Regions from separate parts of the Homo sapiens genome. Here region 2 is linked to region 1. Evidence: fine-mapped expression QTL. A gene starts in region 1. The other region holds a variant in brackets. All regions are shown on one strand. Distances are from middle to middle. Region 1 holds the start of TRAT1 (T cell receptor associated transmembrane adaptor 1). Region 2 has its middle 38 kb from the start of TRAT1.

What was found. PIP is the estimated chance that this variant, and not a neighbour inherited with it, causes the effect.
Region 2: its variant is fine-mapped to the expression of TRAT1 in whole blood (INTERVAL, PIP 0.90).

The regions. Positions count from the first base shown.
Region 1 is chr3:108,820,152-108,825,540 of GRCh38, forward strand. It overlaps TRAT1 (T cell receptor associated transmembrane adaptor 1), which reads left to right and starts at 2,635. Exons shown (of 6, transcript NM_016388.4): 1 at 2,635-2,783. The coding sequence starts at 2,777.
Region 2 is chr3:108,858,105-108,863,493 of GRCh38, forward strand. No RefSeq gene overlaps it. Among named protein-coding and RNA genes, the nearest start is that of TRAT1, 38 kb to the left of the region's middle. The variant C/G (reference allele first, on the strand shown) is at 3,002.

The DNA of each region.
Region 1 (5,389 bases):
TTGAAATTCCATTTTGATAACCCATCTCATTAAAAAGTACTACAGAGGCCTCATGTTTATTTATGATTTAAACATGGCTCATGAAGCCATCATTCAAATCTCTGAATGCACTTTCTAATATATTTTATAACAAATAAATATCCATATGCTTTTTTATATTCTGATAATGTTTCCATGTGCTCAGCCATCTATATTTAATGAAAAGCTATTTTTTTTTTCCTGGCAAATTTCAAACATCTATGGAGCTAACTAATGTGCAGGCACGGACTTCCTGTGTGACCTTGGACAATCTTGTTACATCTCCGTAGATTATTTAAATCTATGGAATGGAACATTGTAATGAAGATCACTTTTCAAAAATATTGTAATAATTAGAAACTGTGAAGTGGTTCAGATTTATTAGCCTAAGTTTTTACCATTTAGAGATGTCAATCATGCATAGGAGGTACATTAACCCTTTTAAGCCATAAGGTAATCACTCAACAGGTACTTCAGGCTCTTTCTGAAGCAGGACATATCCTTCCTAATGTCTCTTCTGCTCTTGCCTTCCCCAGCTTCCTGCAGCTGTATGGGTAAAGTCATACCCTTGAGGCAGGGAAGCCCTTAGACAGCTGCTCTCCCAACAGGTGGGTTTGCTTTGGGTCTCTCTTCCTGTTGGGCTGCTCTGAGAGATACTTCTGAGCAAACCACAGAGTTCCTGCATTTTTGCCTGAGTCATTCTTGCTGAGTTGACCTTCTCTCCATTCACAGCCAATAATAATTAAACACCGTTTTTTCTGGAATTGCACTTTATGGATCAGCTGGGATGAAAGCATCTTCCTTCCTTCTTTCCCCATCCTCTGCGATAATTTTGTTCTAACAAAGGAATGCTAGCACCAAAATTTCCAGTCCTGAAACCCTTTCTCTTTCCAATGTCCTCTGTAAGCTCGAGTTGTGGGCATCTACTTTGCCCATATTCCAAGGTCTTGCTTAGGTAACCTCTGTAGTCCTTTCTTGAGCCTAGGACTTCTACTTTTCTTACCAGTTACCCTCTTTCAGGACCAAAGCTCAACTCCTCAAGGCCATAACTAGGCCCTCTCCTCTCAAACTGATTTATCAGGTGCCCGAATCTTCCTGAATGTCTGGGATTCAACTTTTCAGCAGTCTTCCTCCCTACGTTCCATCTAATTCTAAGATGAAACCTTCTGATTCTTTGTTGTCCTCTGATCCCTACATGAACCTGAGGCTGCTGTTCCCTGAAGTCTTGTTCTGTCAGCATCCAGGCCTGCTTCATAAAACCTGTCACTCTGCTAATGGTTAGCGGCTGAACAAAGAGTCCTCTGGCCAAATAAGTTTAGAAAAACTCTGATAAAAATATTATTTGGGTTTCCTTTTCGCAGGACTTACCTAAGCCTTTAATATGCATCTACGGAGGTAAAAATAAAGCTATATATTTTTTCCAAAGATATTTGTTGAAGAAACATTTGTCTTCTGCGTTTCTTAAAGGCCGAGTGTTCTATGGAACATACTTTAAAAATCCCTTTTAAAGAAGCTTAGACCAGAGAATCTCCAAGGTCTCTTTCAGTTTTACAGCCTCTGAGTCAACGATTCACCAAAAAATATTTTGGGGGGGAGTGATTGAAGTGGAAAAATGTGTTAGTGTTTAGCCAGCTTTGTCCAAAGGATAAGATGCACTGTATTTTGCTTACTAGGGAGTTATTTTCTATAATGGAAGACAAAGAAAGCACAAGACACCCATGGTTTTGTTTGTTCAATCACTGAGAGTAAGTCTCAATTATTGAGACTTACGATGTGCCGGTGTGCTTAATTCTAGTTATGAAATTTTAATAATGAATAATATAGATTCTATTCCTTATATGAGTTTCCAAAAGCATTGTCCAGAACATCTATATTAAAATATCTTATCATATACAATATATGTAATTTAAAATGCACTCAGAAAATCTGCTTGTTAAAATGCAGATTCTAGTGCTTCACCCTAAATAGTCTAATTTAGACGGGCCCAGGATTTTAAACTAGCATCTTATAGCATACTTATGTACACCAACATGTAAGAACTGCTGCTATTAAGATTCTGGGATGGTGGTTGAGAACAGGAGCTTGTTGTCAGGTGGCTCTAGATTGGACAGAGAAACTCATACTGATAAGGTGAGGATTGTCAGGAAATAAGGCAGGCATCTAGCCTCGCATTAAGATGAGGTATAGAAGGCAACTGATACATACTAAGTGCTCAAAAAATATTAACTCCCTGTCCTCCATCATGGCTCAAGAAAATACAACAGCTGAGCACACCCACGGGTTGCTTACTATTTACTCATCAGTTTAGTGTATCTTATTTTGTTTCCATGTGAATTTACTTGTGAAGAGATGACTGGATTCTCTCCAGAGATAGGAAGATCCCTCCTGGTTTAATTCCTACCTTTATTTATTTATTTTTCAATTAGACTCAGGTATTGATAAAAATTCAAATGTCAGATTACAAAGGTGTGTGGGATTTTTCTTCCCACGTTACACAATTTAAGTCGACTGTTTTCAGATCAAAACTCAAGACAACTCCTTCACCACATTTCCTGTTTGTAACTGAAACAAAGTACACACAAAAGATTTTAAGAAACAGAAGAGAAAAGAATCCGAGGCACAGATAAAGATAAGTTTTACTGTCATGCTGCTTTTAACATAACAGAGCAACATCACCTAGGAAAAAAGTTTGTAGGAGGATTTTTAATCCATATATTTGTCTTATGGCTAGATAAAGATTTCTCTGAAAAAAAGAAGCATGTCAGGTAAGTGGCATTTTAAACTTTTTGTTCCATTTGTGTGTCTAAAAATTCACTTAATTTCTAAGTCCTAACGAGAAGACCCTTAGTATTTAGAAAGTAGTTATTTTAAAAATGTTGGATAACTTTTAGTGTAATTAAAATATATTTTGAAACATGTTAATGAGTATAAGTTGACATTTTTCTTTTGAAAGAAAAATGTGGACAGCATTTTAGAACGTAAATCTAATTACAGCTGTTCAGTAAGTGTTCACTGATAATTATGCCATGTGAAGTACTTGTTATTTTTAAAGAAGCTTTTGTTGACTATGTGTATTCCTCTTTAGTTTAGTTTAGCTATTAAACAGGATAAGTGTAATTCTAATTCCTCAGAGATTAGGCACTATAGTATTTTCTAGAAAGCAATGCAATTGTCAACATTCAGAGAGACAACAATTTTGAAAAGGCCAGTGAAAATTCAATTGCTGTGAGATTAATCATGAGGGTTAGATCCATATTCACTCGCTGTTGTGAAAGGGTTGGATCCATATTGACTCACTGTTATGAATCCATGTTGATGGTTCATTCCTCCTGTATTATTTTATGTACTTTTAATTTATTAAATAAACATCTTTTTGTTGCAAAAGGAAACATGCATATTATGTAATGTGGGAGAACTGTGAAATATATATATTAAAAATTCATACGTATTTTCCATCACCTTAAAAACACAAAATATGTTTTATTTCCTTTCAAATTTTATTTATATACATTCTATATAGTTTGCTTTTCATAACTGAAATAATAATGTACATAATATATCCAGCTTTTTTCACTAACATAACCATGTCCCTTTTAATATAACTTCTGCATAATCATTTTAAATGAATGCACAAAAATGATATCTATTCAGTTATAGTTTAGTCATTTGTTTATTGCTGAACATTTATGTTGTATACAGTTTTTTTTGTTTGTTTTTTTTTGAGACAGAGTCTCTCTTTGTTGCCAGGCAGGAGTGCAGTGGCGCAATCTTGGCTCACTGCAACCTCTGCCTCCCAGGTTCAAGCGATTCTCCTGCCTCAACCTCCTGAGTATCTGGGACTACAGGCGCGTGCCACCACGCCTGGCTAATTTTTGTATTTCTAATAGAGACAGGGTTTCATTATGTTGGCCAGGATGGTCTCGATCTCTTGACCTCATGATCCGCCCGCCTTGGCCTCCCAAAGTGCTGAGATTACAGGCGTGAGCCACTGCGCCCAGCCCTGTTGTATACAGTTTTTAAAAATATTTTTACATGACAGAAAGATGAACAACTCTATAGCTTTTTCTGTAGTAAGGGTTATTTTTTCAGAAAACTTTCTAGAACTGAAATTATTAAGAGATTATGGCATTTTAAGTCTCATTATTGCCAAATTGCTTTTCCAAGAGTGATGCCAATTCCCTCTCATTCTAGCAGTGCTTCTCCTTCACAGGCTGATCTCCTTTAAAAAATCGTCACTAATCTCATAAGCACAACATGCTAACTCATTGTTCAATATGCATTACTTTGATTATAATGAGGTTGAACATTTTTGCATGGATTTTTAAACTGTTTATAGCTATCATTTGTGATAGTCTGATGACCTCTTTTGCTTAATTAGTATGCTTTGTACTTTTAATACCAATTTGTATAGGCCAGCTATGGAGTAAAGATTGCATATATTATAATTTCTGTGAATTGGCTTCCATTGTTCTGTTTGATGGATCTTAAAACCAATTGATTACATAAATCACACAGGGACCATAAGCTGGCATACAATTTTCATACCTCTCCTTATCTTTCCCAGTTCATACTTTAGCAAAGAACAAAAACAAGTGTCCCAATTTTTCTAGTGCCCTGCAAGAAATGAACATAGCATTACTAAGTATAATTCCATGAGCTGATGATGATGGGGAACTCAGAAAGCATGGGAAGACCAAAGACGGTGAATATGACATTCCTCTATTTTCAGGACTAATTAATTCTAAATTTAGAACAGATATGGTAACATTTCCTCCATCGCATTTTGTAGTTCAGACTTCCCCTTTGGGTTTAATACAGGAGCTCCTACATCAACAGTTGAGAACTTTTACAATTTCACAGAAGAGATGCAAAGACAAAGTATTTAAAAACCTCACAGGTATTAAAAGTCAAAACAAAACAAAATTTCACATGAAGGAAGAGAATCAGATGATAGTATTTTTTATATTTAGATAGGTAAAATAAAAAATAAAATAAATTTGAACACACACAAAAGAATAATTATTTCTAGTTAAGTAAAACTACGTATGAAAACAAAAACCCAAGTATTTTCTTTTTTCCTACCTATATGCCTGTAGTCACTGCATCATCCATAATGTTCTGGTATCATAATTCCTGCTGTGTTTCTGCATTTACATAAAATCTGTATTAATGGAATCAAATGGTGAAAACAAGTCTTTGGTCTATCATTAATTTAAATAATGATTCACAATTTAGTTTACTCATCTTCATTTTTTTTAAAAAAAAGGAGTCTCATTGTCTTTACTCAGTTTTATCTTCTCTTGAGCCTCATCACCTTTTGAGGACAATGAAATCCTTTCTTTTAGAGACTAGGTGGGACTAACGTGTAAAT
Region 2 (5,389 bases), 38 kb after region 1:
AATAATGACGATTTATGGCAGCTTGTACACACTAACAGCCCTTCTAATTTAGGAAAAATCCAACAATAAATCCCCTTAAATGACAGGCTGTTGCTTTCAATAAACACTAAGACTTACATCTACCACAATATTTTCATATTAAAGTGTTTTTACAGGAAAGTATTTTATTAATGCCACTTGCTTTAAAATGACTTAGCTTTTCTTTTTCAGTTTTGTGTATAAAAAAAGAGGTTTTCCCTGCAGTGACCTCATATTCACTCTCCATAAGAGACAGAACCCAAAACTAACTTACAAAAACAAAAATAAATAAATCCCGATATTGAAGCTAAAACATAATTTTGTGCCCCCTTTTGTCTAATTTTTTCTGTAGGGGATGAAAGTTATCTCATTTGGAATCAGGGAAACATTTGTTATTTAGACCAAAATGGAAGAGAATGGAAAAAGAATCTCAATCAATAGCGTTCTTGGCCACCTCTGATGTAATGGACAAGTCTTTAAAGATGTCAGTAACCATCATAACACTTGAGAATTAAGTAGGTTTATTTCTTCCATCTGCATTGATTAAGAACATACTTGGTAAATTAACTGGAAAAATTGGGTCAAGTGAGGAATAAATTTTTAAAGTACCATAAACATTTAAATTTAAAACGTATAAACATTTAGTCATTAACTTTTGATATAGGGCCAAGGCCTTACTTTGAGTAGGTCTATGATTGAAGTTTCATGTCATTTTTCTTGTATAAATATCATTGTCCATAAAACACTGTCTATGGTCCCAGTTTTGGTTTTGTTTTTAAGTGAAATGAGAACTTGAAAACATTTCTAATGAAATCTAACTGCAGCATCCCTCAAGATTTTTGGTTTTTCTTCCGAGACTTTAAGAGTTATTTCACCCTTACCTAAATTGTCAGTAATTTTTTTTTAGCAATTCGGTTTATTGATTCTTTGGAATCAGTGAACTTAACTATCATAGGAAAAGTTCCCTCCACACCCATATTTCATTAGGACACATAACAATTATCTTATGTAATTACAAGTACAGCCAAAATAATCAAGTGCAGGAACAAACACCATGCACTCCTGGGAAACACAGTTTTGGTGGTGGGAGAGACTCAGGAGGTTATAAGAATAGTCTACTGGCCATGGTGTTTATTGTGCTGGGTCAGGATTCAGTATGTTGATAGAAGGAAGGGAAAATGGCTCACATAGGTAGAGGTCAGTTAACAATGCCTCTATTTTACAAACCCAAGTTAACTTTACAGGATGAATTATTAGAACAATGGAAGAGTCTCCCACATCCTTTGCTGTTCTATTTTGTCTTTTTTTTTTTAACCACACAAGCAGTAGTGGTACCCAAAAATTCTACCATTTGAAAAATTAATTTTTAAATTAAATACTCTACTTTTTAGTCTTTCTACAAAGTATTGAGAAAGAAAAAAAACTTAAGAAAACTGGGGCAAATCAGTTTTTCTCCAATTTCCATTCTCCCATTTTTCCTAAGTACAGAATCTTTACTTTTAACTGGTGATCAAGACAGCATTAACTTCTCAAGTTAACTAAACTTCAGACAGATTTCTTCCTGTCCGTTTTCCTATTTACTTAAAAAACAAACTCATCATTGCAAATTCTTTTTTGGCTCCCTTTCAAGTGTGTATGTCTCCTCAAAAAGCTTTTACCTATTTGATTACCCCCAGAAATGTCTCTCTCAAAAACCTGAAAACCATCTCTTTGAAATGTAATTTCTGAAGGAAGATAATGCCTTTATCCTCCAGTCTGTGGGAGGGCAAAAGCCTACCTTCCGTCATGGAGATAGGTCAGAATTAAGCACAGGTGGCCTACCGTTACCCCCACCCCAGCTCTTAAAAACTCTCCAGCCTTTTGTTTCACCCTGAACTCAGAGGCTGAGTTGAGTTCAACCTCTCTCCTGTATTGCAATAGTCTTGAATAAAGTCTCTCTTGCTTGTTTAACTTTGGCTCATTTTTCACTTTAATACCAGATGCACGGCTGCTGGAACAATGTTCCCTCTGTAGCTTGTGTTGCCTTTCTTTGGCTCCTCATTACCTGTAGCTGGAATAAAGATGTGGTGGCTGAAGTCTGAATAGCAACATTTGATCACAGGATAGACTGCATGGGCTGAAGATGACAGAGAAATAGGATAAAAAGAGCTAAATTCCTAACACATGGAACAGCATCCCAGCCTTAGACCACCTATCTCCAGCCTTCTTTAATGTGAGAGATAAATTTCTGTTTTACTTAAGCCATTGTTGTTTTGAGATTTCTGTTATTCACAGGTGGACCTAATCTAACTAATATACCCCAAAATATCTTGATTTCATTTTTCACCTAACTTCTTTTAAAGAGGTAGTAAGGAGTACTAAAATGATGTCATTTGGGGTGAAGTGGGGTTGGCAGAATGAAATTCACTGGTATTACGTTGGTGCAAAAGTAACTGTGGTCTTTGCCATTAAAAGTAATGGACAGGCCAGGCGCGGTGGCTCACACCTATAATCCCAGCACTTTGGGGGACCGAGGCAGGCGGATCACGAGGTCAGGAGTTCGAGACCAGCCTGACCAACATGGTGAAACCCCGTCTCTACTAAAAATACAAAAATTAGCCAGACATGGTGGCACACGCCTGTAATCGCAGCTACTCAGGAGGCTGAGGCAGGAGAATCACTTGAACCTGGGAGGCAGAGGTTGTAGTGAGTTAAGACTGCGCCACTGCACTCCAACCTGGGTAACAGAGCAAGACTCCATCTCAAAAAAAAAAAAAAGAAAGTAATAGAAAGACCACAATTACTTTTGCACCAACCTAATACTTTTCCATGTACCGAATCTGCTCCAAACCACTCAGAACATTTGTAGAGATGAAAGAAAAGCCAGTTTCCTGTAAGATTAATATGAAAAATTCTCACATATGCATTAAATTGTTTCCTCTCCATTAAAATTTAGGATATTTTATCTGTAACTATGAGAAATTAAATTTGTATACAATTATTG[C/G]TTACTATATTCACAAGTTCAGAAGAAATAGTTGAAAGAATAAAATTGTAACTTAAGGAGATCAATTAGAAAATGGATAAGACATATGCAGATATTTTAAATAAATATTAACCTATTTTTAAAAGACCAACCATCCCTTGGCTATTTACACTTCATCTTGCTGTCTAAATCCTACTATCAAATTGTTAAGGGCAATATTACTTACTGTCGCTAACTTGGTATCAATTACCAAGTTAGTATCAGTTTGATCTAATTTATTCAACCTCAGCAGGCCTTAGAAGACAAGGTTCCAGCAATAGACAAATAAAGCCGTCTGCAGAGTTTAATGCTAAGTACTGGTTTGGGAAAAAGAACAAAGAAGTGGAACAGTCAGATTCTAATTGGGAGGCAGGAGCTGCAGCCTCTTGTTGCAGGGGATTTAGGAGAGCAGGGAAACTTGTTTCTCTGGACAGAAGTGCTGCAGTGTCCCCTGCTCTCTAAGTGTCTAAACCTTTGATTACCTTAAGAAAGAAAGACCTTTTCTTGTGCTTGTTGACATCTTCTTGTCAATTTTGCCACTCTTGTGACATTAGCATATTCCTCATTAGCAAAATCAGAATGTGGTAGATTAATGCCACACACTCCTTCTCTCACTAAGTAAAATCCTATTCATCCTTTATTCCATTTCTGCAAATAAAAATGAAGTCTTAGGCCTGCTTTTCACTTCTTATGCTAAGTAATGAAGTTCCTAAGCCTGGCCTTAAAAAATGCAAGTCTTCACAATCAACAATAGGTGGCTAAAAAAGATGAAGAGATGTCCCCTCTCTCCTGAAGTTACAAGATAGAGCTTTCTGCATCATAAAATAAATTCAAATAGTCTGATGTGATAAGGTATTAAATTAAGAACATTCACAAGAATATCAATCTTGCTTCTGTGCAACAAGGAGACTTGTGTGAATATTCATAACTGTTGCCAACTTCTTCTATTCTCTGTTAATATAAATTTGTCCTTGGAAGTATGGTTAGAAGAGATTCTTCTAAGACTTTGAAGACTAGTTTGTTGCAATGCCCTGTGATAATAACCAGAAGAAACGTGCAATTCTGATTGGTTATCTTACTTGCCCTTGTAATATTATAATTGACACCTCAGTGCTTGTTTGTTTGTTTGTTTGTTTTTGAGATGGAGTATCGCTCTGTCACCCAGGCTGGGGTGCAGTGGCACAATCTCAGCTCACTGCAACCTCCACCTCCCAGGTTCAAGCGATTCTCCTGCCTCAGCCTCCCAAGTAGCTGGGGCTACAGACATCCTCCACCATGCCCTGCTAATTTTTTTTGTATTTCTAGTAGAGATGGGGTTTCACCATGTTGGTCAGGCTGGTCTCGAACTCCTGACCTCAAATGATCCACCCACCTCAGCCTCCCAAACTTCTGGGATTACAAGTGTGAGTCACCATACCCGGCCACCTCAGTGTTTTTAAACAATATAAATGCTTGAAAGATTACTAGGTCATACAAAAAAATAATCACTGGCACTTTCTTTTTTTCTGACAGGCATAATGGAAAAGTTAAAGCCTATGACTGCAACTTTTTTTTAACACAGAGATGAAGGGTCTAGCTAATTTATCGGGAACAATATCTATTTAAATCTACCTAACAAGCTATTATAAGAAGGGGCAGCTGAGGTAGTAAAATGGAGAAGTAGGCAAAATGCAAGGAGCTGTTATTTTCAAAATGACCCTGTAAGGCATTCTTCCTACAAAAATTTGTGTAAGCCCACTATGTGCTAGTCACTATTCCAGTGTAATGGCCAACCCAGTGCCCAGTCGGTGTTTGGGGCTATCAACAACAGTCCCCGGTTTTGCATATGCACTTTCCCCACCCTCATTCAGCCACGTGTCTCACAGGAAATCGAGCCGTTCCCCAGGTGAGAAAAGGAAATCAAGGTGGGGCATAATTAGTTCAAGGGTATTGTAACAGAGCCACAGGAAGAAATGGTTTCTCATCACCTATCTGAGCACTTTTGCATCTGATATGACACCCAGAACTGCTGCAGTCATCTTGTTACTACTCTGAGGATGAAGCCAGAACCAAGAGACTGAGCAGAGAGATGGGAGAATACAACCAAAATCACTTGGGGCAGTTTACTCAGCCCTCACCCTTGCCTCTTACCCAATTAAGGGACAAAGGCCTGTGGATTTTGTTACTATATCCCATTTCATTTTTCTTTTTCCCTCATCCAGGCTCATGGCATCTTTCACCTGACTTACTACAATAGACTTGTGATTTATCTCTCTTCCCCAAGTCTTCTGCTTACTCTCAGAGTGTGTCTAAGACATAGCTCAGATTATTTCCCTCCTCTTTTAAAAAACCCCTACTGATTTTCATTGCTTAGACCAATTGTTCTCAAAC